Homo sapiens: one gene and its partner. The protein of the gene in region 1 purifies or fractionates together with the protein of each later gene. This does not show direct contact. Each region holds a gene or a part of one and is shown on either strand. Other genes may lie near its edges. The genes, in order: EBLN2 and SCGN.

The links.
Region 2: the proteins of EBLN2 (region 1) and SCGN purify together in Homo sapiens (affinity purification with mass spectrometry; one large-scale study listed by BioGRID and IntAct). This does not show direct contact.

What each region holds. Positions count from the first base shown.
Region 1 is NC_000003.12:73,059,982-73,063,980, forward strand, and holds EBLN2 (endogenous Bornavirus-like nucleoprotein 2), read left to right. Parts: upstream 1-1,677; 5' UTR 1,678-2,100; coding exon 2,101-2,919; 3' UTR 2,920-3,356; downstream 3,357-3,999. Other genes in the region: PPP4R2 (serine/threonine-protein phosphatase 4 regulatory subunit 2), read left to right, coding at 1,042-1,079, 3,692-3,766.
Region 2 is NC_000006.12:25,650,938-25,655,201, reverse strand, and holds the start of SCGN (secretagogin), read right to left. Parts: upstream 2,988-4,264; 5' UTR 2,799-2,987; coding exon 2,717-2,798; intron 1,821-2,716; coding exon 1,750-1,820; intron 1-1,749.

The DNA of each region.
Region 1 (3,999 bases):
GTGTTTAAGGGAATGAAAAGTAAGAAATTGACTTGTCTTGAGTGAAAAATGAAGGAAGCCCTGTGAGAACCAAGATTGGACTAATGAGTTCTAATTTTCAGTTGATGGTTGGTCCGGAAACACTCCCCTGTTCATTTAAGGATCTGGTTCAAATCCACTTTATTTTACCCTGGGAACAGGAATCAAAAACCATTACATAGTGATTTACAGTAGTTTTTGTGGCCATACTGGATTAATATATTTTGTTGATCCTCTGTACACTCAATTGAATAATATCCCCAAAGGCCAGGAAACTGAGATGGCTCATCAGTACTTACTTTTCAGCTCCAGGAGTTGTAATAATTACATTTTGGAGATTTTCAGATAAAGTAGCAATATGTTACAGTAGTCATACCAGGTGCCCTGCCTTTAAATCAGGGTTGCAGTGTTTCATAGTTGTGTGACCTTGGGCCAGTTAGTTTTCTCCTCTGTAAAATGTGGTTAATAATAGGGCTGGGAGGGGGATTAAATGCAAAACACTTACTGTGACTCATACTAAACTTTCAGTGAACACTGAATATTAGTAAAGTTATTTTTACTGGGAAGATCATAAATATATTACAAAAAAGGTTTGAGTCTCTTTCTGTGGGATATATGATGCAACACAACAAGCCGTGGATTGGGTGTTGCTTTGTAAGGAAAATCAATTACATATGTCTTAAGTACTTCAATCTCTCAACATCTTTGTTGATTCCATCTGAGCTTAGTTACTCTACTACGTATAGTGTATGATGTTACGGGTCTAGAATAACTAGATTAGGGTAAAAAATAAGTATAGGAAAAAAAAAATTAGTGGCTGAGTAGGATATTCTCTTTTGGTCCTTTGTTATTGTTTTAGTTTTTGCTGTTTCACCAGTTTTCATTTTTAACCATTTTCCTTTACTAGCAAAATTAGAATCAATGGGAATTTAACCCACCAGAGTGATTTTAGAAACAAAAATGATGAAACTTTATGTTGTAGTACTTTTCTTCATACTAAATCACTGATTTTTGTTATTGCAGAATGTGATGGTTGTTAGCTGTGTTTATCCTTCTTCAGAGTAAGTATATTTTTTCTATTTCTAGTATATTATTTACTATATTTAATCATTTTATTGCTTCTAATATATTATTCTTAAAATAGACTGAATTTATTTAATATGTAATTAAGTGTGATAACATACTTGTGAACCTACCATTCAGTCCCCAAAGTAGAATATTACTAATAACATTATCTATATGTTTTTTCCATTAAAGAGATTTGGATTAAAGAGATTGGTGATTTACTGTAATTTTAATATTGTTGGATTTACATACTGTGGTGGCACTCATTGCCCTGAGATGCCATTCTAGATGCCTTTCCAGGGTGTCTCTAGGGCATAATTCCCATGTTTGGAATAACTACTTGATGGCTTTTCTCTTTATGATGGAAAATATTTCCAGTTGTCAAGATTTAGATATAGCAAAGTAAGAATTAAATTTGGATACAATTTCTCAACCTTGGAACTATGGACATTTTGTACCAGATAATTCTGTTGTGAGTGGGTGTCCTGGGGATTATAAGAGGTTTAGCACTGTCCTTGACCTCTACCCACTTATGCCAGTAGTGTTCCCCTCTCCAAATATCTTTAGACATTGCCAAATGTCTCTTGGAGATGTGAAAGGCAGGGAGGGGAGGTTGTCCCCTGCTGAGAACCATTGGTTTAAGGTTAATCTGGCTCTGCTTTCATAGACTACTCTGTTACCCAGGCTGGAGTGCGGTGATGAGTGATCATAGCTCACTGCAGCCTTAAACTCTAGTGATCCTCCCGCCTTGGCCTTCCAAAGTGCTGAGATTACAGATGTGAACCACCACACCCAGCCCAGTCAATTTGTTTTTAGAATGTTCCCAAGAATATAGTTATGTTGCTAAATAAGATACTAAAATAATCCCATACTATATTTCTTGACAGAAAAACTATTAAAATGTATACATGATAAAAATTTCTTTTATGAAGCAAAATATGTTTTGTTTTGCTCATGAACGTGAGGTATTTTGGAAAAATGGTAAAGAAGTGCAGAGTCAAGTCATAGCGACTAATAATGGGTTATTTTCTTAAATTGTATGCTTATGTTAATTCTCACAGTCTTTTTGTTTGGGTCTGTGACAGATCTTACAAAAGATCTTTTAGACCTATGATTCTTAACAAAATTAAAGAATTAAGTCGGAACCAATTTTCCACAATGTCTCATCTAAGAAAGGACTCACAGCCCAGCAGCCCAGGAGATGACGCAATGGACAGGAGTGGGCTCCCTGACCTTCAAGGAAGATTTGAGCTATCTGGGAAAAACAGACAGTATCCACTGGATGCATTGGAACCCCAACCCAGCATTGGGGATATTAAGGACATTAAAAAAGCAGCCAAGTCTATGCTAGACCCAGCACATAAATCTCATTTCCACCCTGTGACCCCAAGTTTAGTATTCTTGTGTTTCATATTTGATGGGTTACACCAGGCATTACTGAGTGTTGGTGTGAGCAAGAGGTCTAATACTGTGGTTGGGAATGAGAACGAGGAAAGGGGTACTCCTTATGCTAGCAGATTCAAAGATATGCCTAACTTTATTGCCCTTGAGAAGTCATCAGTTCTCCGCCACTGCTGTGACCTTTTGATAGGCATTGCGGCTGGATCAAGTGATAAGATTTGCACCAGCAGTCTCCAAGTTCAGAGACGATTCAAGGCAATGATGGCATCTATTGGAAGACTTTCACATGGTGAGAGTGCTGATCTGCTAATCAGCTGCAATGCAGAATCAGCCATAGGTTGGATCAGCTCAAGACCATGGGTTGGAGAATTAATGTTCACACTTCTATTTGGAGACTTTGAATCCCCTCTACACAAGCTACGCAAGTCAAGTTAGTTGCCAAGAAAGCACAGATGACAACCTATTAATGCTGTGAGAATGTTTCTAGATCAGTGCATGGATGGCTCCATTGCTCTACGGGCCATTGTGTCTGAGATCCCAGTCTTTGAGGAGAAAAAAAACAATGGTTAAAAAGGCATTGGGGAAATATTTTGAGTTTGGGGGTGTACTTTGCCACCCCATTATTGGGGAGCTGTCACCACGAATGTTCCCAAACTTAGCAACAGCGGCAAACTACTGGGCCAAGATGAGCAACCCCACATTTTTGGGATTTAAAGCTCCTGATGTTATACCAGGATCAACCATCACACTCCCTTTGCTTCAAATGGCATCTACCCCGTAAGATCTTGAGGGGGGAGTGTTGGGTGGAATCATAGATCCATGCACTCCTAACATGAACTAATTCTCATTATTTAAAAAAAAAAAAAAAAAAAAAAGTCCAGGTGTGGTGGCTTAACGCCTGTAATCCCAGCACTTTGGGAGGCCGAGGTGGGCCGATCACTTGAGGTCATGAGTTTGAGGCTAGCCTGGCCAACATGGCAAAACCCCGTCTCTACTAAAAATAAAAAAAATAGCTGCGCATGGCATCACACGTCTGTCATCCCAGCTACTTGGGAGGCTGAGGCATAAGAATTGCTTGAACCTGGGAAGTGGAGGTTGCAGTGAGCTGAGATTGCACCACTGCACTCCATTCCACCTTGGGTGACAGAGCCAGACTCCATCTAAAAAAAAATTAAGTCATCCACAAGTGTATTTTCTTTTCTTATAGGAAAAACAATTCCAATAGTTTAAATCGAATGAATGGTGTTATGTTTCCTGGAAATTCACCAAGCTATACTGAGAGGTGAGATTCTAGATTTTTAATACCTACAGAGTTTGCATTGTCCTGATTTTGAGTAGCAGGCTTAGTGTACTTTTTAAAAATTGGGCATTTTATGGACACCATAGGATGAACTACATAGAATTAGTTAATTTGGTAAGGCATGGGCCTGAAAACAAAGTTGCAGCAAATACTTCTGTGATGTATTCACATCAACATACCTTAAGAGGGATGACTTTTTATAAAAATAGGAAATG
Region 2 (4,264 bases), on another chromosome or scaffold:
TTAGGAGCTGGCCATCCCATTTATTCCAAGATTTTGAATGGTTTTAACTTTGTCTTTTTGCTTTCCTCAAATACCCATGTCCATGATAGATAAGATGGGTTTCTGGAACACGATGAACCTTACATTTACAGATATAAGTAGAAGCCCTGTGGGCAAGGCTGGTGGGCTTCACCATGGGCTGCTAGCACGTGAAAGTGGCTGGCTAGATTGAAGCAGAAGCCTCACTTGGGGGAGGCTTCCTCAGCTCTACCTGTAGCTTGTGTAGGTACAAGAATGAAGGATAAAGAGGAGTGTGCGCAAGTGGTCTGACCAGAGGAAAGAAGGGACTTGTGTCTCTATCCTTCTCGTCTGCTGATCCTTTCACTTCACAGGCTGCACAGGGTAAGGGGTGGAGTGCAGGCAGACAAAGAGCAATAAAAGGTACAGAAAAAGGGAGATAAGAGACAAAGAAAAGGGTGAAGGAGAAAATGTGGAGAAAAGAAATGAAGGTCAAAAAGAGAGATGGGAAAGAAAGAAGAAAGGAGAAATAAAAGACATGGGGAGAGGAAAGACCAAAAGAGCTTTGAGAAGCAGAGAGACTGGAAAAAGAATGGGAAAACACAGAGACAGAGAGATGGAGAAACAAATGAGAAACAGAGACAAGAAAGATGGGCAACAGAGAGGTCAGAGAGAAAGGCAAGAAACAGTAGGAGATGAGAGCCATGAAACACAGAGATAAGAAACAGAAGTGAGCAGAAAAATGACAGAGATAGACATAAAAAAGAGAGACAGACAGAATATGAGAGGCAGACAGAAGTAGAGGGGGACCAAGAGATCTGTGTGGCTGAAGAAGGCGGAAGCCAGCCCTTTTGTTTCTGAACCAGCTTCCCCTGCCCCCCACATACCCTCCCCATGTTCTCAACAGTGGTGAAGAGCTCCTTGTTCCCTCACTGAGCTCTCACATGAGAATGTGATGCACTTCTATTCTTCAGATAAACAGCTGAATGATAAGGACAAACTATCTCCATCATTCATTTAAATTCAATTGTCCCTAGAGCGTCTCCTTCTACTATGAATGCCCTACTGGAGCTTTCATCAGATCGAGCCCATCCCCAGGCTGTCCTCCGCTCATGTGTTTCTGTGTAAAATTTTTCTCTGCTTTGATAGAGAGACTTTCAAGAGTTCATTTACATCTCCCAAGGACATATTTACCATCAGATGGACACTAGATAGATTGGCTTCCATTTGTATCTGGGCTCTGAGTATGCTGGTTGTTTTCTGGTTTGTCATTCCCTGAAAAATCTGTAACCTCTTCTAATAAAATGAATAATGGATAAATGATTTTAAATGGTTTGTGGTTTGCTATCAGAGGAGTATCATACATATTAAACACCCAAAATCTTAATGTGCTTAACATCTTTTCCAGCTTTTTGAACAAAGTGGGCTACTTTACCCCCAGGTATAAATCAATTAGCAGAGACATAACCAAGGAGACGTTCAAGACCAAGTTAACTGAGTCTACAGTTAGGATCTCTGAGTGGATGACAGATGTTACACTGAAAGTCAGTAACCAGCATGTCTAATGCTACAGTTGCACCTTTTATAAAAACTGCCTAAATCCCTCTATGTTGCTAGGAGAGGGGGAGAAATTACATACATGCAAGGAAGAAAGGAGGTGAGTTGGAATTAATAGGTACCAATCAATATAAGACTTGGATGTGCGTATCTTACTAAGAGGCATAAATTAAGGCTTAGTGTGCAAGTACTTACATCAGTACCCAGTTTCATCAACATGTGGAGAAAGAAAGCATCGAGTTCCTTCTCTTCTATGTAACCTTTTTCTAAATGTGAGAAAATAAACATAAATAATACTAACATATAAAAAACACATGACAGTATTTATCTAAATATGTTTTTAATCTCACAATTCATAAAGCTTCCCTCAACACTATTTTTTGTTATTCCAATAACAAAGTGCCAACACCTACCTCTAGAATACATGGGTTTGAACAGTAAACACTGTTCCAGAATACGTGCTTTATGCTAGGGTTTATATTAGTGCTTGGAAAAGGAAGGCTATTAAGTACATGAATTTTAATCAATGAATAAACGTGAACTTTCCAATAAAATTTAACCCCAAAATTTCTGAAGCTTGGAGAAACTTAACAGGTGTAAGTATTGAATCCCAGTTTGCAGAGTTAAAACACACCTTTTAGATATTTTATTTCTTTATTAATAAAAACAAATATTAAGTAGTTCCATTTTATTTTCAAGTAGTTTTTTGGTGGAGGAGTCGTTTTGAAAGCTGATAAAATTTATTCTCATTTTGAGAGAGTGAGGGGTGTACAGCAAAGTCACTGCGTAAAAGTGAGCCCATTTAGGGAAGGATGACTTCAAATAGCTGAGTCTCAGCCCACAAGCCTTGAACATATACAATGATATTAGTCATTGTATATACAATATATATGTATGTCTACCATATATATGGCGCGCTCGCACACAAAGAGAGATTGGAAAGGGGAAAGTGGAAATTCACCACCCAGAATTTTAACAAGGTATATAGATGTGTATCACCAGTATGCCAAACGTCTGTTAATGATACTGTATTAGGTACACTGCATTAACAACCCAGGTCGATAACTTTTCCTACAGTAAAGGGGAAACTCCAGGTCCTTTCAGCGGGCTGAGCTTGGAGCCACGTCTACACCTGAGTGTGCAAGTGGCTTGTTCTACTCACCATCCGCATCAAAGCGCTGCCAGACCTGCCAGAAGCCAGCGGCGTCCAAGCGCCCCAGAGTCGGTTCCCGGGAGCTGTCCATGGTGTTGACGACGAAGACCAGGCACCGGCGCGGAAGGACCTAGACAACTTTGGGAAGGACTCCTTCACCGTATTTCTTGACTTGCTCTCCTGCTTCTTTCGCTATCTGATTAGCTTTGAGTAACTGTTGCTGGGGAGGACGCGAGCGCTGCTGGCCGTGGCGTCGCTGAGCCGTCCCTCAGCCCTCAGCAAAACCAGCGGCTGGAAGCCCGCCCCGCTCCTGGCGCGCCTGTCCCCGCCCCGCCCTGCGCGCTGTCCTGGCAGATCCTGTCTGTCTCTGCGCTTTGGGGAATTCAGGAAGAAAGAAACTGTCTCCAGGCGTCCACGGCTCACTGCTTTTGCCCTTTAACTTGCTTCTCAGACTCGGAGAAGACATCCCTCTTACGTTTGACTCACTTTCCAAACTTGTGTCTCAAGGGGTTTTCTAGGGAGAGCTGCCTCATTTAAAGGGTTGCAAGAAGTGTCAGTGTTAGGGTCCTTTGGACTTGAGGATTTAGAAATGTAGTGTGTGGAGAGGGGAGGCGAGAAGGGATGGTGATGGTGGTAAGTGGTTCCCTTTAAGGAAGAAGTCAACAGCAATTATTGAGTCCTGATTGTATAGGACATACACATTGCTGTACCAAAATGCACTATAAGGACTTGCAACTAAACAGGGATACTGCAAGTCACTGTGATTTAAAGTAGCATCATTAGGATGCTGAGGAAAATATAAACTAAGCCGTACTCTGCCAGGAAAAGAGAGTCTGGGGGAGATGTGTCTGCCTGCAGGGTACTTAGGTAGAAGGCTTAGATGATTGTGTTTGGCTCCTAAGAGCCACATTAAGACCAAAGGATAAAAATCAGTTGGAGGAACACAGAGCTTTCTAACAATCAGGACTGTTCAAAATTGGGCAAGGCTTTGTGGAAACGTGTACAAACTACACTGATACCTTTTGACTATATATTTAGAAATTTTCGTTGGATAATCTATAGAAAGTGCTTGGATATTAGATAAGAAAGTTGAACCAGATGTAACTTTTCTTTATGGCACCCTGACTCTGGTTTTAGCATTCAGATTTATTTATAAAAAGCATGCATGTATAAGTCATCTAAACCAGAGTAGTGAAAAGAACATGACACTCAAGGTCAGATAGTCCTGGGTCAGGATCTGAGTTCCATTATTTACCAGCTTTGTGAACTGCACCATTAGTTCTCATCTCCCTAAGCCTCAATTTTCTTATCTATAAAATGAGGATTAAAACATCTGTTTTGGAGGGTTGCTGTGAGGATCAGAACCATACATAGTAATGCACAATGAATTATATCTGCTATGGTGTTGTAGCTGATGAGGGATGACTCTGTTAGAGAAAACAAGTAAAGTCTAAGAGATTGTCATAGCCAAGAGGAACCTAATGAAAAATGACAAAGAAATGTAATGTTTTATCCTGGGTGTGATGCCGGAACAGAAAAAGGCCATTAGGTAAAAAT